Homo sapiens: one gene and its partners. The protein of the gene in region 1 interacts with the protein of each later gene in a pairwise test. Each region holds a gene or a part of one and is shown in the gene's direction. Other genes may lie near its edges.

Region 1 (10,076 bases):
ACTTTATGTATACATTATCATCAAATTGTATTAAATGTACACCTGCCTGAGGGGTTAGCTCTAGACTTTGAGTTAGACTGGTGTCTATACTAAATCAGTTCAATAAATGCGCTGATATTATGTATTATTCATTTGGAGAGAAGTAGATAAAGCAGGGCAGAGTTTATATTTTAACATATTATGTAGCCTACATTTGCTCTGATGTGTATTATTATTATTATTATTATTATTATTATTATTATTTTTGAGACGAAGTTTCGCTCTTGATGCCCAGGCTGGAGTGCAACAGCGCGATCTCGGCTCACCACAACCTCCGCCTCCCGGGTTCAAGCGATTCTCCTGCCTCAGCTTTTTGTGTAGCTGGGACTACAGGCATGCGCCGCCACGCCTGGCTAATTTTGTATTTTTAGTACAGACTGGGTTTCTCCATGTTGGTCAGGCTGGTGGAACTGCTGACCTCAGGTGATCTGCCCGCCTCAGCCTCCCAAAGTGCTGGGATTACAGGCGTTAGCCACAGCGCCCGGCCTCTGATGTGTACTAGTAAGTCATATGGGGAGAAGTAGATGAAATAGGGTAGAGCTTATATGTGAACATATTATATAACCTACATTGTCCTCTAGAAAGCTGGAAACAAGTTAGTAAGTCTCAGTACTATTGGGGCATATGGTGAATATACAAACCAACCTAAAAAAGTGTGACTGTAAATAGATGAAGTTTGTTTGTTTCTTTTAAAGAGACAAGGTCTCGCTCTGGCGCCCAGGCTGGAGTGCAGTGGCTCAGTCCTAGCTCACTGCAGCCACGAAGTTCTGGTCTCAAGAGATCCTCCCACCTCAGCCTCCTGAGTAGCTGGGACCACAGGCACATGCCACCAAACCTGGCTAATTTTTTGTTTTATTTTTGTAGAGTCAAGGGTCTCACCATGTTGCTCAGGCTAGTCTCCAACTCCTGGCCTCAGGCAGTCCTTGCGCCTCAGCCTCTCGAAGTGCTGGGATTACAGGCCTGAGCCAACGGTGCTTGTCCCATTTTTTTTTTTTTTCACCTGAGTTATTTGATGGGAATTTCTATATATTACAGTTGCGATGTTCTGAGAATTTTTGTTTCTTTGATAATTGTTTCATGATTTAGATGTTTTCTTTTTACGCTGGTAGTTATGATTTTTTTTTCCTTTGAATGAAAGAATTTTATTAGGCATGTGAAACAGGAGTTTTCATGTGATCAGCTCTCCAGTTCTAAATTTGTGACTTTTAAAAAACTTGAATTTTTTTCTTTGCCTTAACCCAAACTTGAATTTGCTCAGCCATTGTATATTTATTTGAACTCTCAGATGATACAGCATTGAAGCAGAAAGTCCTTTTATCCATGCTTTTGGAGTAATCAAAAGAAGGAATTCTGTTGTGCCAAGTAAAAATATGTGTGGGAGATAGCTAGGCTTCAAGAGATTGACTTTGAAGAGAGTAGTGGCTAAGTAGCAAAAATTTCCTATATTGAAGGTGTAGAAGTGGGCCTGCATTCCAACCTACCATTGTCTTCAAGTGGGGTATGGATCATTATGACTGGTTAGAGGGGGTTTGGAGAATGAAGTTGTTGCTGTAAGCCTATGGGATTCCCAGGCACAGAGCTTGCTTATGTCTTAATTTTAATGAGTTCTATATTTTTATAACTCTTGACTTATATAAATGGGTCAGCCGTTGAGTCTGAGGATGACCAGCAGCCCAAGGCTATTCCAGGTGCTGGTATTTCTTTTTTTTTTTTTTTCTCTTTCTGTTTTTTTTTTTTTTTTTTTTTTTTTTAATTATACTTTAAGTTTTAGGGTACATGTGCACATTGTGCAGGTTAGTTACATATGTATACATGTGCCATGCTGGGAATTGAACAATGAGATCACATGGACACAGGAAGGGGAATATCACACTCTGGGGACTGTGGTGGGGAGGGGGGAGGGGGGAGGGATAGCATTGGGAGATATACCTAATGCTAGATGATGAGTTAGTGGGTGCAGCGCACCAGGTGCTGGTATTTCAAAGATGGCTCAGGGGTTTCTTGTGGAGATGATCTGATGAGCATTTTGCCATTACAAACAGTGGAGGCGGAGAAAGTACGGACTTGAGCCTGAGTTATGGTAAAACATACTCATTTTTAAAGGAGAGTTTTAATGCTGATATTATAGAGAAAGACATTGTTTGACTCCTAGACTTTCAGAACGGGAAATAATTTTGACTTTATAGTCAGTATTTGAATTGGGTATAAGTATGTGAACATCAGTGGACCCTAATAAGGAAGAGTTAATGAATTAAGAAGAGCTTGCATCTCTGAACATCTTCTTTTTATACTTCGTTTACTTCCCATATTGCTCTTATTCAACAGATGGGATGGCATAATTGGGTATACGAAGTTTATGCGCATGCTAACTCTTTTTTGTTATCTTTTGGTGTTTTTTGGTGTACTTTTTGGGGATTTTCCTGGGAAAGTTCTAGGCATATATTCAGTTGATTTAGAGTTAGATTTGGGCTAAGATTATTAGTATACTTGAAATTCTGAGCCTTCTTATTTTCTAAATAGCTTTTAAAGTAGAAAACATTTGCCAGTGCTGTTGGGCTTAAAAAAAAAAAAAACCCAACAACAACACAATTCTTTATAAATACTCATGAAAAATCTGGTTACAGGCTGTGTTGTGATAGACATAGTACAGCCAAAAATATATTTAAGAAAATTCTCACCCAGTTTAGTAAGCTTAAATAAGAGGAAAATAAGACAGTTTTTTTTTTTAATAAAAGGCTGATTTTCCCAGAATATGAAGCCTAACAACTGTTTGCTGTGTTATTTTCCCTGTTGCCTGTTCTAAATTCAGCAAGAACTATGCATCCCTAGTCCATGGTAAAAGCTTAGTTCCAGTAGGTGATTCTTAGTAATGGAAGTCTCATTGAGGGATGCAAGGGAATTTGATTGGGAAACATCAGGCATGGAACATTTACTTTTTACTGCTCTAATTTTCTGTGTATCTGGGTATTCAGTGGGGTGGGAACATGAGCACAAATACTAGAATTATCTGGATTTTTTTTTTATACTATGGATTTCCTCCTCTTACCCCCTACCTGCCCCCCAACCCATTGCTAAGTGAGCCATTGATAGTAGGAGTGTGTTATATCCTTCAGGTATGTAGGGCTGAACAAATGCTAAAAACCTTGGCACTTGGCTGATATTCCATAAACCAAATTCCTGCTCTGTGTAATTTGCCTTCTGGTGATATCAGTTTGTTACTCCCATTTTTGAAGAAAAATATGAATTGTGGTGAAGAGACATCTGTAACCAAGAGTAAGATTTATCAAATTATGTAGTATACATGAAGGACACCAGGAGATTGTTTACCTGAACATTTATTAAACTCATTTGACTGTGACCCACAATAAAAAATACATTTTACTACTTGATTCCGCAAGCGCACACACACACAAAGTTGAAAGTTTGGTGAAATAATATTTATCTTTTCAGGGCCCTACTGAGTTAGCTATAATGGCTTGCAAGACCAGTTGTGCATATTTCTTCCTATCTAGCTCTTTGTCCAGTGACATCATGTTGGTAGCTCAAAATTGGTCATGGTGGGAATATTTACACCAGGAAATTCAGCAAATGGTATTCTTAGGGCTTCCCTCCTCATAGGTAGTTGTTAAACATTTATAGCACCCCACTGCTTATAACACACATTGATATATTCTGTTATTTCATTTCATTTTAAAAATGCTGGGTTTTGACTTCCAAATTAATTTTACACCCAGCTAATGGATTATAGCCTACATTTAACAACAAATACAACTAGTTTAGCCTACCCTCTTAACTTTGTAAGTGAAGGAACATACTAAGAGCCTCAAGGCCAAGGTCAGATAGTGAGTTATTAGCAAAGCCAGGGCTCTGGACTCAATCTGGAGTTGTTTCTGGTGGGCTTCTTTCCTAACCTCACTTAGTGTGTATAAGGGATTGTGTTAATCAGTTTGAATAAAGATGGACCTTGACCCTGAGGACTTTATGCTTAGGTGGGGGATTAAATATGGAAACAACAGTGATAATGAAAGGCAGAAAGTAATGGGTGGTAAAAAGATAAAGATAAGGAACTATAAGAGTTTAGAGAGGAGGGAGAGATTACTTTTATTTTTGTTTGTTTGTTTGTTTTTCGTTTTTGACCCAGGCTGGAGTACAGTGGTACAATCTCGGCTCACTGCAACCTCTGCCTCCCAGGTTCAAGTGATTCTCCTGCGTCAGCCTCCCTGAGTAGCTGGGATTACAGGCGCCAACTGCCACACCAGGCTAATTTTTGTATTTTTAGTACAGACGGGGTTTCGCCATGTTGGCCCGGCTGGTTTTGAACTTCTGACCTCAGGTGATCCATCCGCCTCAGCCTCCCAAAGTGCTGGGATTACAGGCGTGAGCCACCGTGCCCGGTCTACTTTTAGTTTTAAGGATAAAAGAAGAGGTGACATTTGAACTACTTTTTTTTTTTTTTTTAATTTGGAGACAGCATCTCACTCCCGTTACTCAAACTGAGTGCTGTGGTGCCATCACAGCTCACTGCATCCTTGATTTCCTGGCCTCTAACAGTTCTTCTGCCTCAGCCCCCAAGTGGCTGGGACTATATAGGCACACACCAACATGCTTGGCTAATTTTTCATTACTTGTAGAGACGGGGTCTCATTATGTTGCCCAGGCTGTTCTTGAACTTCTGGACTGAAACTGTCCTCCTGCCTCGGCCTCCCAAAGTGCTGGGATTACAGTTGTGAGCCACCACGCCCGGCCCCTGAACTATGCTTTGAAGAATGGGTAGGATTTGGACATGTGGAAATAGGACAACTAGTATGAGAGAAAGGCCTTTCTGGGCCAGGGGCCAGGGTGATCAAAGGCATACAAGCATAGACAGGGAAAAATGAGTAGTGAAAGAGCTAGGCAAGAAAGAGTCCGTTAGCACCAGATGGTTAAGAGCCTAGAATGCCAGTTTTCCTTTCTGCTTTTCAGTTTATCTTTCATTTTTGACTCTGGAGTAATCTAGTACTTCTTAACATTGAACAGGATTTATATGTTATGATTAAAATATGATCCAGAGAGCACATAAGTATCCTTAGAGTAGAAGCTGAAGGGAAAAATTATTAGTGTTAGAGAAGCAACCTTGAGTTTACCAATCCTAAAAGTGTTGGAAAGTGAAAAATATTTTATTTGTAAGGAGAGACAGTGTTTTTTTTTTGTTTGTTTTTTGTTTTTCTTCATTAGCGTCAAATTGGCTGTAGTAGAACAGGAAGCAGTTTTGAAAGTCTTTACAAGGGCCTTCTAAAATGTGATTTCTAAATGACTGGATCTTAATTTTTGGAGGCAGGTTTAGTTCAGGCAGAAGGGTAGTTTATACAGATCTGCAGCTAAGCTGAGTAGCTTTTAGAATTTAGGGCAGCAAAGCAGGGTATTTTATACAAAATCCACTTGTAAGGAATTGATGGCTTCTTTATTCCAAGAATTTTCTTAGATTTCAGCATTTATGTCTTTGACAGCCTGTATGACTGAAGATGTTTTGAAGTCTTGGATGGAACTTGCCTTGTTTCACAGGGGAATTGGGTAGCTAGAAATGAAGGTATAAATGCCAGTAAGTTGTGTCTGTTAATCAAGTTGAAGTACTGGTGGCAGTTCTCAAGCTTTTCTGTCTGCTGATGATTTCACACTTACTGCTTCTAATTAAATAGTGTGTAGTCGATTTGAAGAAGCCTTGCTTCTCTTTGACCCACCAGTTCTGTAAAGGTAAAAGCCTTCTTAGAGTGTTGCCCAGGTAACAACACATACAGAGACTGCTTAATAGCTCATCATGGAAGTGTGTGGAAAATTTTGGAAATGTTGGTAAAGAAGTTGCTATAGTAAATAACTACTTGGTTGGTAAAAAGCTGGGCTACTTCTGGATAGTTGATAAAGAGTTTTTGAGATGAGCCGTGGTTCTAAAATAAATATGAATTGTGTCATTGCCACACGATTTTCTTCAGTTATGTAAGCTCCTAATATGTAAATGTTGTCCTACCATTTTAGAAGGTGTCAGCAGTTTCATGTGACCTGTTCCACAATATAGCACACCCCAAACACCACGATAAGAGTTCAAATATGGCATGGCCCAGATGCCTCACACCAGTTAAATGATAAAGCTAATCATGTCAGCACAGTGTTTCTGTTAAAGTTTTTTCCCCCTCTTTTTTGAGGCATGTTAGTTTTCACGAATTGAGGTTATTAGAATCTTTCCAGATTTTCTGCCACCATTTTTTTTGTGTGTGTGGTAAAAAGTATAATGATGGTGCCCTTAATTAAATTATGTAAACATTTGTAAAGATATACACGCATACACATAGTGTGCATATATGTATGTGTAGACATACATACATATATATTTACATATCATTAGTTCTTGGAATTTGTGGTGAAAATACACCCACCTGGCAAATGGTTGAAAACAAGTGTTCTAGCTCTTTGAAGACTACCATGTGAGTATTCACAAATATGAAAGTAATGCAAACCCAAAGGGAGTTTTTGTATGCCCAATTTCAAGAAAGGAGCACATTTTAAAAGGCAAGTATGGAATTCATTCATATACCAGTGAGGAATTTCTCAACTTCTCCTTTACCCCACACATACACCCGTTTACCATTCTCATTATTAGCAGTAAGCAAAATTAGAAGACTTTAAGAATCAGACTTCTACTACAAGTGATGCAAATAAATATTATTTTTAGAAAAAATACAAACCTGTGGTTTTGAGTTATGAAGGTTTAAGAGACACATATCACTAGTTTTTTTTATAAACTACATGGAGTGTTTTCTGTGCTTCAAGATGTCGTAATTGTCATTGTGAGGCCTTTTGCTGAGAGCATTGTATAAAGGAATAGTTGTTAGAATGGTTATTAGGTGTTTCTTTGAATAGTTTATTTTTCTGTAGTCAATTTATCTTGCATACATTGATGGCCGGGGGTGGTGGCCCACACCTGTAATCCCAGCACTTTAGGAGGCCAAGGCAGGCAGATCACTTGAGGCTAGGAGTTTGAGCCTAGCCTGGCCAAGATGGTGAAACCCCACCTCTGCTAAAAATACAAAAATTAGCCGAATGTGGTGGTGTGTGCCTGTAGTCCCAGCTACTTGGGAGGCTGAGGCACAAGAATCCCTTGAACCTGGGAGATGGAGGTTGCAGTGAGCCAAGATCGTGCCACTGCACTCCAGCCTGAGCTACAGAGTGAGACTCGGTCTCAAAAAAAAAAAAAAAAAAAAAAAAAATTGAATAGAGTATACTACTTTAGTGAAAAATTGACCATTGAAAAATCAACCATTGAAGGGAGGTTATATATATATTGGCAGACAGTAGGGTTTCTGAAGTTGTTTTAGAATAATTTTGTTATTGAGCAGCTGTTTTATCACCAGACCTCATTCATTTATTATTGCTTTTTTCCATTTTTTTTTAAATCTCATGAACTGTATTCTTTCATTTTAAATCTCTCATATTTGCCCTGAAGTCAGTGGTCATATTTGGACTAATGTTTTGATTTGCTGTTGTCTGCGCAAAGATCTATTACCAAGTTGCATGATCAAGTTGGTATTGAATGGTAATTCAGTTAATGTCTTCTTCTCTCCATTCCTTTTTTCCTTCTGTATTCTAGAAGTTACCTTAACACTAGTGTGAGATTCCTGGCAAAGTTAATGGGGAAATGAAATTAAATATTACTGTTATTCAAATCCTAGGGTGACCTTTTTGCCAACACTAATGAACATAGAAAATTTTTCAGCATGAATTATGCAGCTTAAATTTTCACTGAGGCTAGGCCTCTTAAGTTTAAAAAATTAAAAGTTAAAAAAATATTTATGGGGTACAAGTGCAGATTTCTTACATGTATAGATTCTTACATGTATAGATGTGGTGAAGTCTGGGCTTTTAGTATACCCATCACCTGAATATCCACCATTCTGTATGTCCATGTGTACCCATTGTTTAGCTGTCACATATAAGTGAGAACATGCGGCATTTGACTTTCTGTTTCTGAGTTATTTTACATATGATAATGTAGGCCTCTTAAGTTAAAAAACATTCTGACATGCATTTTATAGTTCTTGTCAACATTATCAATAGCTTTGATAGATGAAACAGGTTTCTCCTGTTGCAGTTGGTATCACACACAATAAATTAGCCATCCCTACCATTTGAAAATATAAAGGTGTTTTTTTTTTTTGACACGGAGTCTTGCTCTGTCGCCCAGGCTGGAGTGCAGTGGCATGATCTTGGCTCACTGCAGCCTCTGACCTCTGCCTCCCAGGTTCAAGCAATTCTCCTGCCTCAGCCTCCTGAGTAGCTGGGACCACAGGCACGTGCCATCATGTCTGGTTAATTGTTGTATTTTTAGTAGTATTTTCACTATGTTGGCCAGGCTGGTCTCAAACTCCTGAACTCGTGATCTGCCAGCCTTGGCCTCCCAAAGTGCTGGGATTACAGGCGTGAGTGACTGTGCCTGGCCCAGATAAAGTTTTTTTAAAAGATAATCTAGTAATAGTAGGAAAGAGAAACCAGTTTATCAGTTAATCTAATACTTCCTATTTTGAATATAAATTTCATTGTGTTGCATGGTAACTTCATTATGTTCCACTGAGTATTTACTTTTCTAAAGACAGACCTTTAACAATTTTTCCTTTTTTTCATGTTTTGGAGACAGGGTATCTCTCTGTTGCCCAGGCTGGAGTGCAGTGGCACGGTCATAGCTCATTGCAGCCTCAAACTTCTGGTCTCAAAGCGATTCTCCAACCTTCGTCTCAGGAGTAGCTGGTGGGACTATAGGACTGTACCCACCACACTCTGCTAATTTTTTAAATGGGAGTCTCCCTATGTTGCCCAGGCAGGTCTCAGACTCCTGGGTTTAAGCAATCCTCCTGCCTCAGCCCTTCCAAGCATTGGAATTACAGATGTGAGCCACTAAACCCTGCACAATTTTTCAACTTTTGGGAATTTCACTTAGAGGAGGATAATAGTAGCTTTTAGACATTTTTATCAGTTATCCAAGGGTGGAAAAAAATACTTAAAATGCAAGTAACTACAAACATTTTTGGTTTTGTGGGAGACAGTGTAGATAGAACATAGAACCTTAATTCTTGATCTAGTGCTGCTGTGAAATTCAGAGAGAATAAGTAATTTAGACACAACTTCTTTCTCCTCTTTGCACATTAACCATGAGCTAATATTGAGTGTTTACATGGGGTAGTTATTACATAAGAAAATGTACATTATCTCGCTAATCTTCACAGTAACCATATGAGGTAGGAACGATTATAATATCATCTCCAGTTTGCAGGTGAGGAAGCAGGATTAGAGAACTTCAGTAACTTACCTAAGATCACATAGCCAGGCGCCGTGGCTCATGCCTGTAATCCCAGCACTTTGGAAGTCCGAGGCGGGCAGATCACGAGGTCAGGAGATTGAGACCATCCTGGCCACATGGTGAAACCCCATCTCTACTAAAAATACAAAAATTAACCAGGCGTGGTGGCATGTGCCTGTAATCCCAGCTGCTCGGGAGGCTGAGGTAGGAGAATCGCTTGAACCAGGGAGGCTGAGGTTGCAGTGAGCCGAGATTGCGCCACTGCACTCCAGCCTGGACAGAGTGAGACGCTGTTTCAAAAAAAAAAAAAAAAAAAAAAATCACGTAGCTTGTGAGAGGCAGTTATCTCTTGCTTCTAAATCTGTCTCACAGTGACTCTCTACTACTACTCTGTATTGACAATCTTTAAATGGGATGGTACTTGTTTTGCACATTTCATAGGATAGTTATGAGAATCAAAAAAGATAAGATGTACAAAAGAACACACAGATGTCTCTGGTGTATTCATTTTATTGGATAATATTTGAGACACCAAAGAAATCTTTGAAATCTTGTACACATATTTGTTTGTAATCAGTAATGCTATAAAATAAGTTGAACAGATGAATATTTGAAAAGTTATCTATAAAGACATATTTTGTGTGGGTTCAAGGGATCTGTGAGTGAAAGGTAGAGGAATGCAGAAATGTAGGGATGTATTATAAAAAGTGGATCA
Region 2 (10,076 bases), on another chromosome or scaffold:
ATGCTCTCCGGCGCGGCGCTGCGCGGCGGGAGGACTGCGGCGGGGAGTAGGGGACACCAAGGTGGGGGCTGTGATCGCGGGGTGGGGGCGGGGGCACGGGCAGAGCAGAGCTACCGGCTCCGCACAGCCACGCGCAGGTGGGGAGGAAAGAGGCCCAGCGAGCGCTCGGACGTGGGGAGAGAAGAGGCCCAGCGAGCGCTCGGAGAGCCGGGAGTGGAGGGCACACAGCCAGCGGCGGCAGCCTAGGAGCAGGAGGCAGAGAGGGCGCGCTGCGACCCGCGCACCTCGGGCTTGCTGGGCGCCGAGCAAACCCCAGGGGGCGGGCTGCCAGAGCGTTGGGCCGCGGAGAGGGCGCAGCGCAGCCTCCGGCGCTTCGTCTGGGTGCAGCCTGGGTCCAGGGTCAATAACCCTCCCCGGCGCCCCCTGCCTGCCCGGCGCGGAGCGGCCTTGGTCTGGCGGGATGTGGGCTAAGGGGTTTGGGGAGGGGGCGGTGGGAGTCCCATCCCCCACTCTTACAGCAAAAGTGTTGGATGACTCGCCTGGCTTTGCCGGCGGGGCCCACACTTTCCCACACGGTGTGATGCTCCGCCAGGACTGTAGACGACAGGACTGCGTTTGTCCAAATGCTTCTACTTCGAGTTGAAGGGGACTCAGGGACACTGAGCCCCGGAGCGGCTGGGAGCGCTCTTCCTTGAGGTGTCAATAGGCGGGGCTGGAGCTGCCTCGGGAGTGGACAGGCCGCGGTTCTCTCTCCCACACTCGCACTCGCCGAAAACAAAACTCTCTAATTGTGTTGTTTACGGAACGCAGAAATGAGAGATCGGAGATGGGTGGGATGCTTCTCCCCAGTGAAATCCCAGTCTCCCCCCGCGCGACCCTCGCACATTAGAACCAAATACGGTAGGTATCGTATCCACGCCTCCTTGCTCACTGCGTCCCTGCAGCAGCCCGGGAAGTCGGCGGCACCTCAGCAGGCTCGGCTTCGCGGGCATTGGAGTCGGCGGTGTAGCCCCGCGAGATGCTGTCATCCCAGGCGCCTTTCCAGTGCTTTGTGCAGTCCTCACCCAAGCACTCGTACACTCCCCGATACATTTCCTTTCCCCTGGGTCTGAGAAATCAACCTAAATATAGGGCTCTTTGGGTCATCAGTCCATCTGTTTCTCTTTTGGGTGTTGTTCTTTACACTCGCTGCTACAGTGTCAAAGGGCGCCGGTGGAACTGTTTTCCCTGTTTGCTTTTAAATGAGGCCGATGTCTTTATTTTCATCTGAAGGGAAATAAATGTACATATACTTGAGGTTTGCGGGCTTCGATTTGGACTAAAGGTTGGGAGAGAGAGAGAGTGTGTGTGTGGGGGGGGGAGTTGGCGGGAGTGGGATGGTGGGTGGGGGTGGGTAGCCCTTTTCAACCATGCCTAAGTTGTGAAGTGAAAGCTTAAGGCTTCGCGCCGCAACTCACTGCCCGATAACTTCTGAAGTGAAAGCAGAACACAAAACCCTTCGAATTTTCTTGAGCAACTTTTTCAACTATTTTAATTGCCAAGCAAGACATACGATGCCGTCTTAAAATATTCCCGCACGCACAGTCCACTCAGCATCCAGAAACTGAGCCTCGTTTCCGATCTGATGATACTTGTCATTCAACTGGTGGGAGACCCATTTATTTTGTCCCCAGGGTCTCTAAGGATGCCGCTGCCGCTTTCTGATAGCTAGATCTCAACTCTTACAAACTTTTACTGAGCCTCAGATTCCCGCTTGCACTACTCCAGCTGTTGCTGCCGCAGCTGCCTTTCCCAGACAGAAGCGCTGCGTTGCAATTCTTCAGTTACAATCTGGGTAATAAAGGAAATCATATTAAAACTACAGATTTTTGTATTTTAAAGCGCGATTTCCTTCCCCCGAGTAGCGCGTGGCGGAGATGGTTGGTGACCCCTGCGGTGCAATCATCCAACGAAAACTTCACTGCTCTGCACCAGTTTTTCTTTTTCTGGGTTTAGAAGGGGAGTTGTGACTACAATACTTTAAAAAACAAAACTACCTTTATTGTGGCAAGAGAAAACATTACAATGGAAACAAATTACATATAAATAGTTGTTTTCTCGGTAGCTTGTTGTTCTTTTTGTCTTTTGTAAATTTCTTTGGTGGTCTTAAGTCCTGATTTGGCCTTGACTACAGTACAGGAGCCCATGGACCTAGACCAGAGACCACGGACCCTGAAAATACCCACTGAATCTACACCGAGATTGAATGCACAACACAGTTTGCAACTTGTAAGGCTTGTATTTTATACAGTAGTTGAAACCGATAAATTCGTTGTAAATCATTTGGGAAGGTTAAAAAATTTAATTAAAAATAAAATGAAAGGCAGGAAGATTGACATTTGTAGTGCCTAACGCCCCTGAATTTTATTTCCATCTTTAAGAAAAGAAAACCAAAAGCCAAACCGACTCTGGCAGCGCGGGGAGACTTCCCAGCCGTTTTCTTGGGCAGCTAGGACAGCACCTGGGCCGTGCCAGAAATGCCAGTTGCTATGGTCCTGATGGATGGAAAGGAAGTGCAGGTTGGGTCTGCGCAGCATGTCTAAAGCCTGAAATACCGAAGCCACCCTTACCTTACTTCCCCAAAGTGACAACGCGCGGGAATTCAGTCACAGCAGAGAACGAGTTGCATCCAGTAACTCCCTTAGCTACCGGCCCCCCAGAAGTCTCGTAAAGTCTCAAAAGGCGATGCGATTAGCAAGACCGCGGCAAGGGGGGCACTTGTTACTCCTACACTTGCTCTCTGTTTAAAAAAAGGCTCTGAAGTAGGAAAGGTAGATGCCGACCCTTTCTCCCGTCCTTAAACTACTCACCTTGTCAGCCCAGTAACTGAGATAAACACAACAAAACAACCCCCCCACAACAACAAACACAACACCCAGATTCAGGCATTTACTCTCTGTATGCCCACCTACTTGGGTTTTCCTTCATCCTTAAGAAACTCAGATGAAAACAGAGCTTTGTTTTAAAAAATACTTTTATTTGTTTATTTCAGATTGCTTCTGAGGAGGAAAATCCTTCTCCCAACGGAGGCCGAGGCCCCTTCTAGGAAGGCGGTTTATTTGCTATTACTTGACCATTACCCGGGCTTAGGGCTTCTTTATTGCATTTGGCACTTGGAGCACAGTCTTCTTGCAGTATTTTGATGTGTTTTGCAAAAAAAAAAAAAAAAAAAAAAAAAAAAAAAAATCTGTGTTTAGGGGAAGGTTAATTACGCTTTTCATTCTTCCCTCATCTCCAGCACTGTGGAAGGGAACGGTTCATTAGCTGTAGAGGCAGAAAGGCTAAAAAGCAAGGCTTCTTTTTTTATTTGTAGGGACTGCAGAGTTGCAGGTCTTGGCTATAGAGTGCATGTGAGTGTGTGTGTGAATGTGAGTGAGTGTGACTTTTGCCGGCTAGCCCAGCTCCCAGGCTTTCTGAGCCAAGGCCTCCCCTGGGCCCTGGGGCCGGCTTCCTGCAGGGACAGACATTCAACATGTAGGACTAGAAATTAACATGTCATTCCACGAATTTTGGTTTCTTTCTTTCTTTCTCTTTCTTTTTTTTTTTTTTTTTTTGGAGTTGAAGGTGAGGAGTCGTAAGCAATTTCTCTTTAAGCATGTTACTGTTTGGGAGTTTATTTTATTTTTGTAAGTTGGGGCCAGGTTATCCGAGGCTGCAGTTGTGACCTGGGGCAGGAAGGGGGGACGCCCTCCTCCCCGGGCTAGAAGGACAAGAGAGCGGAGTTGCCCCCGGCACGCCCGGCTCGGCCCCCTCTCTCCCGGCACCCCCCTGCGCGTTGCCTCCGCTGGAAGCGGGCGGTGAGATGGAGAACCTTGACTTGTCATCTCCTGGTCACCGGCTTTTTCCCTGTTCCCAAGGCACCCAGAGCCCTGTTCCCAAGAGCTGAGCCCTCCCACGCTTCATCTCAAAACCGTCTGGTGCTGAGGAAGTGGCCCAAGATGGACGTGGGGGTGGGACTGGGGAAGCCCCAGTGAGGTGGGAGGCAGTTTCTCACTCAGGGGGCCCCCTACACCTCGCTCCTCAGGCTGCTCAGCTCAGGGCTCCAAGGTTTGGCCAGAACTCTTCTTTCCCTCTCTAGTCTCAGAGGGGCTGCGTGCCTGGCGCGCTGCTTCCCTCGGAGCTGGGTTTACATTGACAGTGTAAACTCACACCCACACATGCGTGTGCACACCCACACACGTCTTGGCTTCAGGAAGACAAGGAGCACTCTTGCGCGGAGGGCAGGCACACACTCACTCATTCACTCTCCCTGTTGGGACAGGCTCCTTCCTAGCCTCATAGGGCAAGGGAGAGTGAGTTTGGGGAAGAGATGGGGTGGGAGGGAAAAGTTACACTCTGATGATGCCAGGTACATTTTTTTGGAGTGACGGTTAACCCTTCTTCCGCTGGAAGCCGCTGTCTAGGCATTTTCTAAAACGGTCTGTGGGGTCTGCTTTTCTTTTCTCCTGGACGGCGCAGGATAAATCATTAGTTCCCTCCCGACTTCCCCACTCCACTAGCCACGGTCTTCTTTCTAAAATTAGATTTCCCCCTTCCCACTCTTCTGGCCTTCAGAGTTTACCAGGGAATTTTCAAGGAAATTGGCTGTATAGTGAGAACAAGTGTAAGGAAGAGGATAAAGAGGAGACAGACAAATCGATCAGAAAACCAGAGAGGGAGACAGGAAGGGAGAAATAGTGTAGTTCTTCCAGATCCTTAGTTTGCACACAGATTGGTATTATCCTCCCCAGCCCCTCCAGGAAATGAAAAAAGTATAATCCTTGTTAATTACCTTTGCTTACTACAAGCCATACAAGAAACTTCAGAGATGTCTCTACATAGGGAAGAAACTGTTTACAAGACTCTTTCAAAAGTGTGACATATTGCTCTAGTTCAGCACTAAAAAGCTAAACACACTTAGCCTCCTTTGAAGTGCCCTGGCTGGGGCAGCTTATTTGAGTGTGGTTCAGATATTGCTGTGGGTATAACTAATGGCTTCTACCTATTTAGCTCAAGTGGGAGGAGAGAAAGTCCTGAATTCCTTGTCCAATGGGTCCCTCTGGAGACTGGGTTCTGGCTTCTTGCCAATTCTGTACAATGTCAACATTGAATATTTGAATTCCCAGACTCTATTTAACAAGTTTCTAAATAAATAAACTCATTGTGTGTCTGTGTTTAAAATTATTTCACCTCTTTCATAAAAGCTACAGCATCTTATTACATTGGCCTTGCAAGTTGATTTTAAAAAAATAAACAAACAGATCTCAAGGCATTTTAATAGCCAGATCTCCACAATTTGTATGTATTGTGAAGCCATTCTCTCACGTGTGGCTGTGTAGGGGTTACCTAGAGGGATCGTGATAGCGAATTTTAATAAAAACCCCAACTAAGTTCAGAAAGTAAGTGAAATATTAACTGCGTCTAAAGGGAGCCTTGACTGTGTAACTTTAGTGTATTTAGATATTTGTTAATTTTGTCTACTGGGTCTACAGGGGACAGAGAGCCTCACTGATGTGTTCTAAATGGTTGTCTGAATACAGATCCCCCTTCCCTATTGGTATCAGTAGGTCTAGAACTCTGCCCAGATGGTTTTGTTTCTAGGCATTTTTTATCTGTGTATGTCCTTGTAAGTTGGAAGGAGTAAATATATAGATATTATCTTCATATTTCACTTTGGTGAAAAAACCACAAGTCCTATGGTTTTACTAATTATTCAGCATTTAAACATCCATACAGCATTTTTATCTATATAGAAACATAGTTGTTCTAAGAAGTACATACTGAATTTTTTTTAAGGCAAGTTCTAGTCCTTTTGAAAGTGTGGACCACATCTGGAGTTGTTAGGAAAGAAAGTGGAATTTACTCTAATTTATGTGTATAAAATACAATGTTATTAGAAAGAATGGGATTTGAAAGGGCACACGGTAAAGCCCATAACATTTAGTGGGTAATGTGGAGAACTCAAAGCCAAGACAAAAATACCATCAACCCATGCAAACCCTAAAATAGATTACAATGACCTCAGTCATTTTCATTTTCAAAAATAATAGCCATGATTAAAATGGGGGAGTGTTTTGCTTGGAACCATACTCTTCGGCATTATTATAAAAGCTGTTTTGTGGTTAAAGAACTGTTTCATTATGGAAAAAAAGGGAACTGAATTTTTAATCAAATTCCTGACTCTTCAAAAGCACTCATTCTTGAATTAATTCTTATTTTGATTTTAGTTATTATTCTTATTCATTAGCAAACGTGCTTTTGGCTTGTATATTCAGCCAAATTCTTGACTACTGACTTTTATAACAATTCTAAAGGAGAAATTTATTTAGAAAAGAGATTTTATTATGTTAGTAAACATGTGTGTAGGGGTCATTAACTACACAACATAAAGAACCAACATTTCCTAAACCTTGTTCAAGAACCTGCCTAAATGAATTAGTTGTATATGTCAAGGTTGTTCAAATGATGACATTTATGAATGAAAGTGCTTGTACATGGCAGTTTTTGTGCTTTGGCGATGGGCAGGCTTACACAACAAATATCAATGTGCTAGGCCCTGTGCACGGGCAAACCATGTTCCCTACTCTCACAAGCATTACAAACGTGCACATCAGTGTTTGAATCTGGGCATGATCCCTGATTGAAAAGTCAGGTCCTCTTCAAGTTATTGAATGCCTCTGAGGCCTAGCATCTTTACTTGTGAAGTGGGAGTAATAATACTACCCTCCTTGGGCTGCTGTGAGAGTTAATTGGTATAATGTGTGCAAAGTACCTAAGGCACATGCTCAATAAATCTTAGTGGGTTTCAGTTTCCTTATAATTTATCAGTTAAATTTTCTGAAGAAGAAACATCCTTTTTTTTCCCCTCCTGTTTAATGTTTTTATCCAGTTTCCTTTTTAAAAGTATTTACATGTCTACGGTAAGCATTTTGTATGTCTTCTCAATAAATTATGCCCTCAGAATGAAGGGAAGTCATATCTAAAATTTGGGCACATTAAAACTGTCCATACCAAGCCAAACTAGGCAGTAAATTTGTTCTGAAAACTTGAGCATCTTCCTTTGCCCTTTATTTGGAGTCGGGGTGAGGGGGATGTGTAAATAAAATGATTGAGATTTCAACTTTTCCCCACAGATTTTGGCATTGTATAGCCACACAGCCCTAATTTAGTTTTGCATACTCTCTAGTTATCATTAGGCAATAATCCCTCCTGAATGAAAATTTGACTTTTAGTGGATTGAGTTTGTAAGTCACTTTACTACTGCAGCTGGGTTGCTCCTCTTTAAATGAATGGATTAGACTAGAGCAGAGCCTGTAAATTTGCAGGTACCATAAATGAGTGAAGCAAGGTGGGTATAAGCCTTAAGCTCTCTCCTATTTTTATTTAATTTTTTGACACCCAGCCTTTGTATTTCAGAACAAGAGGGAGTGGCGGGGATGGTGGGAAACTGGCAGTTCAAGACTCCTCTAAAGGTGGCAGCTTCTTCTCAGCTCCTGCTCACTGTTACCATTTGGGCAAGGGGGTTCAGGGCCGCCAGGTCTTCCACTTTTTAAGAGAAGCCACAAATCTGGGTTTTTATGTAAGTTTTCTCTACTTTATGAAATGTTGATTCAATTTTAAAAAATTCTGCAGGCCCAACCAAACACCTCTGCCTGCAATATATAGTTTGTAGGGTTTGCAATGTCCAGATTCATTGATTTCCAAGGGTGCTTCAAAGTTTCATTTTATGGTGATATCCAGAATGGTTTTTGAATATTACCTTGTGTTTTTAAGATCTATATCTTCTTCCCCACCTCAAGTTAATATGTGTGTGTGTGTGTGTGTGTGTGTGTGTTTTGATAGGTGGAAGTACTTATTACAGAATCTGATATCTGGCCATTTATCTGGAAAAATAGTCTTTTACAACTATGTTGTGTCTTTCTTTCCCTCCATGCCGTTTCATCATTAATTGGCTTAAGAAAATAAACTGAAGCATTCCCTCCCCTTCTTGTATCCACTGGCCACCATTCTTTCTTATTTCTCACTAAACCCAATTCTTTGATTTGTGGGCTGGGGGTTGGGCAGTAAATCATTAGGAGACAGTCATCTGTGGTTTTCCACAGTGGGAGAAGGAGTCATTTGGCTACTGTGGATATTCAGAGGAAGAGTTCACCCCTGCCCTCCTAGGAGAGTCCAGATGTAATGTCCTGTACATCTGTAACTGAGGAACCCAACTGATTTTTAAGACCTGAACCTAGGATGGAGAAATAAGTTTTTAAGGGATGAACGTCTTATTTGAGCAGAGTGGCTTTCCATGTAGGAAGGTCATATATGTTCGGGTAACATGTGAAAATAAACATACTTTGCTCTGTTTATTATCATGAGTTGTATTTCTAGCAGAAGTGTTAGGTGAATAACAGGTAAAATTAAGTCTTTAGGATTAAAAATTGTGGTGATGGAATGTCAACACAATGGACTCTCCTGATAAAGATTTGACTGAGCACTTTATAATATCTAACTCAATACTGTAGTCATGGGACTTGTCAGTGAATACATATCACTATCAGTGAATATTGTTGGGAATATCATCGGATAATGCAATTCTTTTAGAGGAAGATTCTGAGTAGTGATGAACCATGCATATAAGCATTATCAATGAGTTATCACCTCATTCTCAATCTTTATACCTGATGCTGAATCTCAAATTCCTTAGCTTGGCTGTTGAGGGGCTCTACTTTTGTGCCAGAAGAATGTGGTGACTCCTGAGTACAGGTCGGGAGTGAGATTTGCCTGGGTTTGAATCCTGGCTCCACCATTTACTAGCTGGTTGAAATGAAGGCAAGCCATGTAACCTTTTTGTGCCTCAGTTTCCTTACTTGTGGACTAGAGGTACTTACCTCATGTGAGGATTTGATCAAACTAATGCATTTAGAGTGCCTTAAATAGAATAAGAGTTCAATACATTATTTTATTGACTTTTCAGGCTTGTCTTATTCAAGACTGGTCCATTCAGCCTACCTTGTTTACTCATTCTGTACCTCTCAGTCTCTTATCAGCCTACTCTTGTGTTTCTACCATCCAAATTTTGGCCATAATGTTGCCATAGTTTGTAAATCTACCCATACTGTACACTGACTGTCAAAATCTAACTCCTCTAAGATTTCATTTGAACTCCTGCTTCTTCATGATCTCTCCTGGAGATATGACTTCTATGTTATTTCATTCCAATAGTATGGAATTGTCTTTATCATCATTTTGGCATTTTATTATAAATTGCTTGTCTTCATGGTATATATCTTATTTTTCTAGGTAAACTGTAAAACTCCTGGAGAGCCCATTTCTGTTTTGTATAGGGCCTAATACTATGCTTTGCATATGGCAGATATCAATATGATTAGGTGATGGTGGTTAGCAATGGGCTTTGGTGGATTATGTGAACCCCTTCAATTTCTTTGGCTGTAAAACCTGTGCAGTTAAGTAATGTCGGCACCAGAATTCTGGGATATCTGACATTTCAAGTGCATACTAAATCCACAATTGACCTATTTTGACAGTGATAAACCACCTGGAAAGTGGAGTATTATTCCTAATTTTCACCAATAATGTCCCTCATTTTGCCAGTGCAGGTATTGCCCATGACCCCTCACTTAAATCACAAATTGTTATTGATCTTAAACTCTGTACTAGACCTGATTCTGGAGAATGTCAAAGGAGTCAAGGTAGAAATGGTAAAACATTCTGTGGACTCATGTAATTCCTAGGGATTTGGGAATATTCAGTTTACAAGTCATCAGAAGCCAAGTTTTTACCTAAATCCTAACACCAATGTAGGCAGTTTTGCTGCCTAATATTTATGCTCTATTAATATAGAGCATGGTGTCAAGCATTTTGCTGTATATTTAAATGCACTTTTATGATTAAAGATTTCTTTCAAACAATTTAAGGTTGATAGATAATGTATTGAATCTTGTTTTACTGATTAAATTAACCCAACTCACTCAACTCTGTTCCCTTAATTCAAGTGCAAACATGACTTCTTCTTCTCTGCCCCTCCCCACTCCTCTAACCCCCATCTGTCA
Region 3 (10,076 bases), on another chromosome or scaffold:
GTCTTTTTTTTTTTTTTTTTTTTTTGAGACAGAGTCTTGCTCTGTCACCCAGGCTGGAGTGCAGTGGCGCAATCTCAGCTCACTGCAACCTCCACTTCAAGCGAATCACCTGCCTCAGCCTCCCAAGTAGGACAACAGCTGTGTGCCCCCACACCCAGCTAATTTATTTTTGTATTTTTAGTAGAGATGGGGTTTTACTATGTTGGCCATGCTGATCTCGAACTCCTGACCTCAAGTGCTCCACCCGCTTCAGCCTCCCAAAGTGCTGGGATTACAGGTGTGAGCCACCGTACCCGGCCCACTTCTGTTTGTCTTCCTTGCTAGGCCCTGGGAGTCTGACTCACGATGGCCTCCACTGGCCTTACCCCTTCCCTCTGCCTTCCATCTGAGTGGCCCAGGGCCACTCTCCCACCCCTTACCCTCTCCCACCCCAGCTGGGTAGCTTCCCTCTGCCCCGGCACCTGGAGAATGCTGCAGGCCTGCCTGGGCTCGGGCCCTCACCTCTACTCTCCTGTGAGACCCTTCCGTGCTCCCCTACATGGCTAGCCCCGCCCCCCTCCTCTCCACTTGCCTGCTGGCATTCACCAAGCTCCTTCCTGGTGCCTGAGTTCGTTCCTCAATCCTCCATGCCCTGCCTGGACTGAGCCTTCAGATCCTGTGGATGTCAGTTCCTAACTCTGTCGAGATAGTGCCCCCTTCTCTCAGGACTTCCACAGCCCCAGCAAAGCCCTGGAGATGGAGGATAACAAATCTTGCCCAAGGGAGAGTACAGGCCAGTCAAGAGCAAAGGAGGCTGGGAGAGAACGCAGGGCTGCAGGACTGAGGGATCCAGAGAGCTGAGAAGAGCAAAGGGCCAGTGGGGGTAGCTGAGGTGGAGCCGGGAAAGACTGGCTGGGGGCTGGGCTCACCCGTGTGACCACAGGCCATATCTCATTAGAGGGCCCTGGACAAAACAGGGACACTGTCCTGGCTCAGCCTCTCATTGTCTTACATTGAGGCCTTTGCCAGCCTCCCTACGGGCTCATCTCTAGGCCACCACCACCAGCTCCTCCCCCAGAGTCTTCAGAAATGAAAGAAAATATGAATGAATTAATGAAAGAATGAAGCCCAAACTTCTGTGTCATACTGGATCACTTGAAAAAAATTCAGACCATGACCGGGCATGGTGGCTCACACCTGTAATCCCAGCACTTTGGGAGGCCAGGGCGGGTGGATCACCTGAGGTCAGGAGTTCGAGACCAGCCTGACCAACATGGAGAAACCCCATCTCTACTAAAAATACAAAATTAGCCAGGCACAGTGGTGCATGCCTGTAATCCAAGCTACTTGGGAGGCTGAGGCAGGAGAATTGCTTGAACCTGGGAGGCAGAGGTTACAGTGAGCCAAGATCATGCCATTACACTCTAGCCTGGGCAATAAGAGCGAAACTCCACCTCAAAAAAAAAGAAAAAAATCAGACCATAGATGTCTTGTTTGTGACTTGTCTACTTTGCAGTTTACTGAGAAAAGTTCAATTTTGATCAGTTGACCTCAAAAAGCGATGGATTGGGGAACAATTTTCCGACTCAGCCCTGCATAGTGACTACCTGCCTTGTTCTAAGCCAGGGCAGGTAGATCTCAGTAGGTGCTCTTTCCCCTCTTCTAGACTGTGCCCATGGCAGACATCATTAATCGATTGTTGTACTCTTTTCCATGGAGCCAGGGCTTTGCTTCTAATTTCTTCTCACTACTGTGCTCCAGAGAGCTGGAGCTAACTGCTGAGACCCACCTATTGCTCCAGTGTTAGGTATCTCCAACTCCTACTTTGGGACCTGCAGTGTGGAAGGTGAAGCAATGACCCAGTCACACCCATCACCCAACCAAGTGGCAGAGCCACTGCTGGAGGCCCCGCCTGGAGCCCCAGTGCCATTCACAGAGCCTTCTCTACAAGTGGACTGCTACATCTTCAGAGCGAGTCATGTCTTGGGCCGTATGTTCCATTTTAATGTCTCAGTCAGAAGGGAGTGAGCTGCAACTCCATCCATCCAGGCAGCAGAACAACTAATGCCACACACCCCCATCCACTAGGAATGAGAGAAGTCCACTGGGGGCACCCTAGGAAGAGATCATAAGGAGCTGGGGGTAGGGACATCTGGCTCACAACAGGCACTTCCTGAAGCCCATGCAGCTGGCACAGGCCCTTAGGGTCTCCCACCCATGGTCCCGTAGCCTGTTGGCTCAAGACACTGTGATTGTGTAGCCTGACACCATTTCCCTTTCTTTCTCACCCACCTCACAGCTGGGACACAGCTGGGCAGGAGAAGTTCAAGTGCATCGCATCTGCCTACTACCGGGGTGCCCAGGGTGAGCAACATGCCACGTCGGGGCTCAACTGCATGCAGCAGCGGGGTCCCTGCCGGGCTCCACAGTGGGAATCCCGAGTTCTCTGCACAGGCACCAGTTTTTTGTCCTCCAAGACCCACTGAGAAAACACCAGGCCACTGCTTGGGAACAGGGAAGCTGCCTTCATCCCCAGGCACTGGCTGACTTTGGCGATCACACCCTTTAAGGACCCTGTGGTAGTGGGTGCTGGCTTTAAGTCTCAGCCCCAGTTTCAGCTCATAAAGATGCTCAGAGATGAAAGTGCTTTTCCAGAGGCTCAGAGAAGGGCAGCACTGGACTCCAGGGGGAGGTCGGAGGAGGCTTGTCCTGTCTTAGCAGAGGGGGCTGGGCCAGGGAGTAGGAGTGAAAGGGGGACCACGGGAGGACTGGGAGGCCCCAGGTGGGGGCCAGCAGGGCCGGATGCTCACCACTTCCATGGCCAAGGGCAGCCAGGTGGTGCTGGGCAGGGCTCACCGTCAGCAGGGGGCGGCAGCATAAGCTCCGGATGCCTACCCCACCTTCCCAGGAAGAAGACAGAAATGGATTTCAGTGGGAGATGTGAGAGAACCTCAAAAGTATCCAAAACCAGACTCAAATTATAAGGCACCGATATGTCTACTCGGTAGTGGTGAAAAAGTTACAACATTTTCTTTTAGACTTAAAAGAAGCAAAAATAGGAAACAAACCAGGCAGCCCTCAGCCGTGGGTTGGAGCTCCAGCTCTGCCCTGGTCGCATGGCCTCCTGCACCCTTCGCCTCTTCGGGCCTCTCCTTGAAAGGATGCTTCTCCCCTGGGAATAAGAGGTGCGAGGCGCCTGGCCCACCTCTCCACATGGCAGCCTGGCTGCCGTCATCCCTTTCCTCAGTTTCCCCCTTCCTTTCTCTTCCCATCTGCCTTGGGAGGGGCGTGGGTCTCCCTGTAGCCTTCAGCCAAGGTGCAGAGGAAGCCCCTGTCCGGCCCTGGTCACACCCCTGGGGGCAGTAGAGAGCATTTGCCTGGAATGTTCTCCACATAGGGCTCCCCTCAGGACCCCAACAGGACCGGGGTGCGGCCAGTGATGAGAGGAGCTGAGGGCCCAGGCTGCATCTCCCGGTTTTCTGCCCACCTGGCTCCCCGGAAGTTGTTTCGCTAAAGCAGGTTGTTGCTAACCATCACTGCTGTAGCTGCTGTTGGTTGAAATGAAAGTTGGCCCTGGACTAACAGGTTTTTTTTTTTTTTGAGCCTGAGTCTCGCTTTGTAGCCCAAACTGGAGTGCAGTGGCGCAATCTCGGCTCACTGCAAGCTCCGCCTCCCGCATTCACAACATTCTCCTCCCTCAGCCTCCCGAGTAGCTGGGACTGCAGGTGCCGGCTACCACACCCAGCTAATTTTTTTGTGTGTGTGTATTTTTAGTAGAGACGGGGTTTCACTGTGTTAGCCAGGATGGTCTTGATCTCCTGACTTAGTGATCCACCCGCCTCAGCCTCCCAAAGTGCTGGAATTACAGGCATGAGCCACAGCGCCTGGCGACTAACAGCTTTTTAAAACAGCTGCTCTTGTTTAATCCTCACAGCAACCCTGAGAGCTACAGGTCTCGTCCTCGCCATTTTACAGGTGGGAAAACTGAGGCTCTCAGCAGTTAAGGCCCTCACCTGAGCTCCCTTAGCCGTAAGTGGCAGAGGGTGTCTGACGCTAAAGCCCATGCGCTCGCTCCACGCCTACCTTGTCCTGCCTCCCTGGATCCCACACTGAGGCTGGGCTGCCGGGTGCAGGCTGGAGGGTCCCGGTGGGGGACAGCCATGGGGTGTTTCCTCCTCAGCCTTCATTGTAGGAGGTTCCGGTGCTGAGTGCCTGGTTGGGGGGCTGCCCTGGCAGTTCCTTGGGAGCTGGGCACCTCCTGGGGAGCCCCCTTGCTCGCCTCGCCTGGCACTGATTGGCTGTTGGCTTTTTCCGGGTGTCTAGTGATCATCACGGCCTTTGACCTCACTGACGTGCAGACCCTGGAGCATACCAGGTAAGTCTGGGCTCTCTGGCCCCTGCAGTCTCCCTGGGCTCAGGAAGCTGCCTGGAAGGGCTCCCAGACCCTGGCCAGTGGACCCTGACCCCGTGGTGGGTGTGAGTGACCAGGGCCCCTTGTCAGAACCAGCTGCCCACGGACTACTTACTGTCCAACTGCCTTTATCGCTTGAGATTTGTCCCTATTCTGGAGGAGCCAGCACATGAGTGTGAGCCCAGCACAGCCACCCCCAGGCACGTGCTCAGAGGGGCCCCAACCTGCTTTAATACACTGCCTTTGCCATGTTGCAAGTCCGGATACTTTTTGAATGAGGTGCCCCACGTGTTCAGTTCACTGTGGGCCCTGAAAACTGTATAGCCAGTCTTTGAAGTGACATGAATTTGGCACTTGCAGTCTTGAGAAGAGAGAATTGGCAATGTGACCCATTCAAGAGGCTATCCTACTTCTGCTGGGAATCGGCCAGCTACTAGAGCAAAGCCCTCTCACCTTACCTTGGTCTGGGGCATTCACACCCAGCAACTTCCAAACCCCGTGAGGGAGGCGGGGGTGATGGTTCTAGTTGATAAACATGCAGGGCTCATGCAAGGTCTCACCGGGAGAGGCCAGAGGTGGGGCCAGGAGGGGTCTTCACCACCTCCAGCCAGTGCTCTGGTATTCCCACCCCTTTGGGTCCAGCCAACGCCCTTCCGGCTGGAGGTGCAGCATCCTGCTCAGCCAGTGTGGGCCAGGAAGCCCTCCTTGTCCCTCCCAGCCCAGCACTTCAGCCCTGGGGAGGTCCCAAGTGTGCCCTCTGCCCCCTGTTTGGGGTGGGAGGATGGGTGAATCTCTCAGCCTCTCTCCTTACACTCCAGGCAGTGGTTGGAGGATGCTCTGAGGGAGAACGAGGCAGGCTCCTGCTTCATCTTCCTCGTGGGAACCAAGAAGGACCTTCTGGTGAGCAGAGTGGCACTGGTGGTCTGGGTGGCCCTTGGGAAAATGCCTCCCCTTACAGCCCTCATTGGAGGAGCCATGGGGAGGGAGGGAGGCAGCACAGTGGGAAGCAGGCAGCTGCCTATCCCCCTGGGCCTCCCTGCAGGAGAGCCGGGACGCTGGGTCAACAAGGGCCATTTCTCCCAGTCAGGGGCCGCATGTGAGCAGGCCGAAGCAGACGCTGTGCACCTGGCCAGGGAGATGCAGGCCGAGTACTGGTCAGTGTCGGCCAAGACTGGTGAGTGGGCCAGGGCTGTCACCATGGTGGGGCAGAGCCCTGCTCTTGGGCCAGTCCTGTGGGGCCTGCCATGCAGTGTTTCCCTCTGTAGCCAGTCGTCTGTTCCCTCTGTGGCCCTGGTGCACACTGGCATCACAGCCCTGCTGTGCTGGTGCCTGGCAGCACTTTCATTGCCTAAGAGGAGCTGCGTCATCTCTAGAAGGAAGCTGGGAGGCCTGCCTCACGGATGGGGGAATAGTGACCCCAACCCTGTGTCATGCCGTGCTGGCCTGTTCTCCATAACCGGAGAACCCCATAACTACTCATAACTACCCCATAACTACTCATGAGGCACGTTCCATTTTAGTCCTGTGAAGTAACTTCCAGGGCCACAGGGTGGCAGGGCCAGGATCCAAACACACCCTCACCTGTAACCACTGCACTATCCTGCCTCTGGCCCTGAAATGCCAGGCATGTGACATCACCTGGCATAGAGAAGGGCCCAGTGACAGGGGCTCCCATCCCTTCCCAGTATCACTGTGGCTCAAAGACCCCAGCTCTCACTGAACTCACTCCCCACCGGGTCTACCCCTGGCCATACTGGGTCCCCAGCCCAAGGCAAGATGCCCAGCATCTTTGAGCCTCCATCTCATCTGGGAAGCAGGTGATGCCATCCATCTCCCTTTTTTGTGAAAAAACGTTTTAAATTACAAAAGCCAGGTGTATTTACTGAGGAAAACAGAAAATCCAAAGACACAAAGAGCAGATGGCAAACACAGGTTGTTGGGGGATGAAATGAAGTCATACGCAGGGCCTGGCACATAATAGGCCCCCAAGGCTCTGGGGACTCAGGAATTGGGCCCAGTAGTCTTTACCCTGTGTAAGAGGGGACAGCAGATATCTAGTCGGAGACTGGGTGAGCACTGAGGGTTGGCGTCACAAGTAGAAGCACCACTTTCAGCCCAGCGCAAACAACTGGCAGTGCCTTCCACTGCTCCTTTCCAACAGTGAGAACTGCTCTGTGAGAACCCTTCCTCCCTTATCAGAGTAACAGTGAGTTCACCGACAGCTCACTATGGACCAAGCAGGACTGCCCTATGCGGTTGTGCAGGTTGCTGGCTGCACAAGGGCAGTGTGCGTGTTAAGGGCTGGAAACCAGCCCGCTCTCTGATGGGCAGCCACCTCTACCTGGAGGAGGATGCATAAAGGCTCCATGTGGGGGCTGACAGCAAATCAATCCTCACAGCCCCACCGGACAGGTATGGAAAGTGACAGGAGGGCAGGCACATATCTGTCCTGAGTTCCACATCTTCCAACACTTGGGCCATAGTAGCATCTGATTGGAAGAGTAGATGCTGGGAAGCAAAGGCTCAGAAGTTTGAGGGAGTGGCCCAAGCAGGCAGTGGGGTGGGAGTTGGGAGGCTGGAGCCAGGTGGGAGGCCAGGCCAGTGGACCCTGCCCCTGGCACTGTGCTGCCTGTGTGAGTGGGTGGGGCTGTGCCCTCCTGGGGTCATTGTTACTGTCAGGGTGCTCTAGAAAGGGCTACGTGCCAACCTGAGGGTAGGCTAGCCTGGCTTTCACACCCAGATGCATTAAGGGGCAAGGAGAAACACTGATGAGGTCCCGGCTGTCTTGTGGGCCCACAGGCGAGAACGTGAAGGCATTCTTCAGCCGCGTAGCCGCCCTGGCATTCGAGCAGTCGGTGCTGCAGGACCTGGAGAGGCAGAGCAGTGCCCGGCTCCAGGTCGGCAATGGAGACCTAATCCGTGAGTATAGGTGTGACTGGGTTGGGCTGGGGAGTAGGCTGGAGGCCTAAAATCCACATGCGCCATCCTCGTCACCTGAGGCCTTGCCATTTCCTGAACTTGTGGCCCTCTCCTGTCCTTTGACCCTCCTCTCAGGGTGTCACTGCAGCCTCAGGCCTGTAGCCCCTCTGATTCCACCTGCCAGGTCAGACACCCTCCCTAGCCCTCCCTGTTCTCCTGACACATGGACCTCATGGGCATCCATGAGGTCCTCATAGCCCAGGCTGGGCGTCCCAGGCTCTGCAGATGTGTCCTGGCCCCGGCTCTCCCAGTCTGCACCTTTGCCCTCTCTGTTCCAGTGCCTGGAAGGCCCTCTCTTGGCTTGTGTCAGGCCATTCAGGCCTTGAACAGCAGGCCCAGAAGCTTCAGCTCACAGCTCTGACTGTCAGGGCCGGCATCCCCTGCCCAGTGTCAGCTACAGGATTCCTGGTTGATGCTAAATTACTTCTCCCCTCCTTACAGAAATGGAAGGGAGTCCGCCCGAGACCCAGGAGAGCAAGAGGCCCTCCAGCCTGGGCTGCTGCTAACTGGGGCCTGCGTGGAAGGCCTCCGCTCCCTGCACACACACGGACAGGAATTTCCGTGACTGTGGTGTGGAGACTGGAGCCCAAGCTCTGCAGCGTGTCGCCCTCAAGCTGTAGGCCCATGTTCCAGTCCCTCCACCCACCCACCGGGCTCAGCTCCAGGGCACAGTCACTTGTCCGTTGCAGGTTGGGCACTAGAAAAGGCCCCCACTGGCTGCCTGGGAGCCCCACACCACCGGGCCAGTGCAGGCACTGTGGTGATCCCATAAAAGGCCAGTCCATTTGCAGGGTCATCAGACAGTCACCTTTGGCCTCAAGAGGCCTCAGAACTGCAAACTCCTGCGTCGGTCTATACTACTCGGCCATGGCCCACATCAGCAGTCAACCCTGCACTCTTTCCCAGCGATCTTGGATGTGTCCCCAGGATCCGTCACAGTGTTCCAGGCAACCTGGACTTGTCAAAGTCAGCACCTGAAGGAGAGGCCACCTGCCATTCCCCCTGGGAGTTTTCTGTTGTCAGCAGGACTTATGGTTCTGGGTCTCAGAGCTTCAGGCCTCACTGTCCTTCTGCCACGGATGCTCAAGGTTCCTGGGCAGACCAGCACCTCTGGAGGACAATGGACAAAATGTCTCTTAGACCTGTTCTGGCTGAAGGGCTATCTCTGGCACCTCTGAGATCCCTAGGTCCTGCCCTCCTGGTCCGTGGGCCAGGATGTGCAGAACAACCACTCAGGCCTTTCTGGCCCACCTGGACAGTGCATTTACCTGTGTGCTGCGGGAGGCAGACTGCACAGCTGTCCTAGGGTAACTCACTCTGCAGCCCTTGAACATGGCACTGCCCTCCTCTGGCACTCATGCTGGGCCTGTGCCCACTGCTGCCTCTCCATCCCTCTCTCATTGGCCTATACATCTCTTAGGACCTTTGTAATGGTGTCCATGCACCTTTAGAGGACTTCAGAGGCCCTGCCAAGTCTAGCATGTTCCTGTCTCCAACACCGCCTCCTGCACATGCAGAGCAGACAGAAATACCCCACACATTCCCCAGCCTCTCTGCCCAGTATGCTCATCCACAGGGTTTTCTCACTGCTATGAACCAGCCCCACAGCCCCAGGCCCCTGTCACCTGGCTATGCCCACTCATCCCACCCGTCTCGTGCTGTTGCTTCCCGTAGATGGCGAGCACCTTGCAGGCAGCCTTCTGATCAGTACTGCTCTCCTAGGGCCTGGCACACTGCAGCTGCCCTGTAAATGTTCAGCTCAGCGATTGCCAAATACCAGTTAGGGAAGAACACTGGCATCTTTTTCTATTCATTCCCCCTTCAACATATTTTTTGTAGTTTTTTATATAAATGACTTTTTTTTTTTTTTGAGATGGAGTTTCACCCTTGTTGCCCAGGCTGGAGTGCAATGGCGTAATCTCGGCTCAGTGCAACCTCTGCCTCCCAGGTTGAAGCGATTCTCCTGCCTCAGCCTCCCAAGTAGCTGGGATTACAGGCATGCACCACCATGCCTGGCTAATTTTGTATTTTTAGTAGAGATGGGGTTTCTCCATGTTGGTCAGGCTGCTCTCGGACTCCTGATCTCAGGTGACCTGCCCACCTCGGCCTCCCGAAGTGCTGGGATTACAAGGGTGAGCCACCATGCCCGGCCATAAATGATTTTATTCATTTTTATGTTTTCTTTTGGGCGGCGGGATGGAGTCTCTGTCACCCAGGCTGGCGTGCAATGGCACGATCTTGGCTCACTGCAAGCTTCCCCTTCCGGGTTCATGCCATTCTCCTGCCTCAGCCTCCCGAGTAGCTGGGACTACAGGCACGTGTGACCATGCCGGGCTAATTTTTTATATTTTTAGTAGAGAGAGGTTTCACCGTGTTAGCCAGGATGGTCTCGATGATCTGACCTCGTGATCTGCCCGCCTCGGCCTCCCAAAGTGCTGGGATTACAGGCCTGAGCCACCGCGTCCGGCCTCCATAAATGACTTTTAAAGGGGTTGTATGTTTAGTGTGAACAAAGACAGTACAAAGCATATAAAATACAAGGTGAAAGCCCCCCCCCCGCCACATTAGCTGCGCCCCTGAAGTGTCTCCAGCAGAAGAGATGGATGAATGGAAGGACACACAGATGGACAGAGAGCAGGAAAGACTGTTAGCTCTGCTAACAGTCAGGACTATTCCTTCTGGACTCTGTGCCTTTGCCTGCACAGCT

Evidence for each region.
Region 2: the proteins of RABGAP1L (region 1) and MECOM interact in binary tests that used the Homo sapiens proteins (3 or more experiments, as listed by UniProt).
Region 3: the proteins of RABGAP1L (region 1) and RAB36 interact in a two-hybrid assay, tested with the Homo sapiens proteins (one study listed by BioGRID).

Annotation. Positions count from the first base shown.
Region 1 is NC_000001.11:174,161,014-174,171,089, forward strand, and holds part of RABGAP1L (rab GTPase-activating protein 1-like), read left to right. Parts: intron 1-10,076. UniProt on the Homo sapiens protein: GTP-hydrolysis activating protein (GAP) for small GTPase RAB22A, converting active RAB22A-GTP to the inactive form RAB22A-GDP. Plays a role in endocytosis and intracellular protein transport.
Region 2 is NC_000003.12:169,652,590-169,662,665, reverse strand, and holds part of MECOM (histone-lysine N-methyltransferase MECOM), read left to right. Parts: intron 1-1,503; exon of another isoform or gene 1,504-1,830; intron 1,831-2,609; exon of another isoform or gene 2,610-3,561; intron 3,562-10,076.
Region 3 is NC_000022.11:23,153,690-23,163,765, forward strand, and holds part of RAB36 (ras-related protein Rab-36), read left to right. Parts: intron 1-1,399; exon of another isoform or gene 1,400-1,957; coding exon of another isoform or gene 1,958-1,969; intron 1,970-2,278; coding exon 2,279-2,343; intron 2,344-3,913; coding exon of another isoform or gene 3,914-3,954; intron 3,955-4,302; coding exon 4,303-4,354; intron 4,355-5,208; coding exon 5,209-5,290; intron 5,291-5,473; coding exon 5,474-5,564; intron 5,565-7,189; coding exon 7,190-7,309; intron 7,310-7,810; coding exon 7,811-7,875; coding exon of another isoform or gene 7,876-7,934; 3' UTR 7,935-10,076. UniProt on the Homo sapiens protein: The small GTPases Rab are key regulators of intracellular membrane trafficking, from the formation of transport vesicles to their fusion with membranes.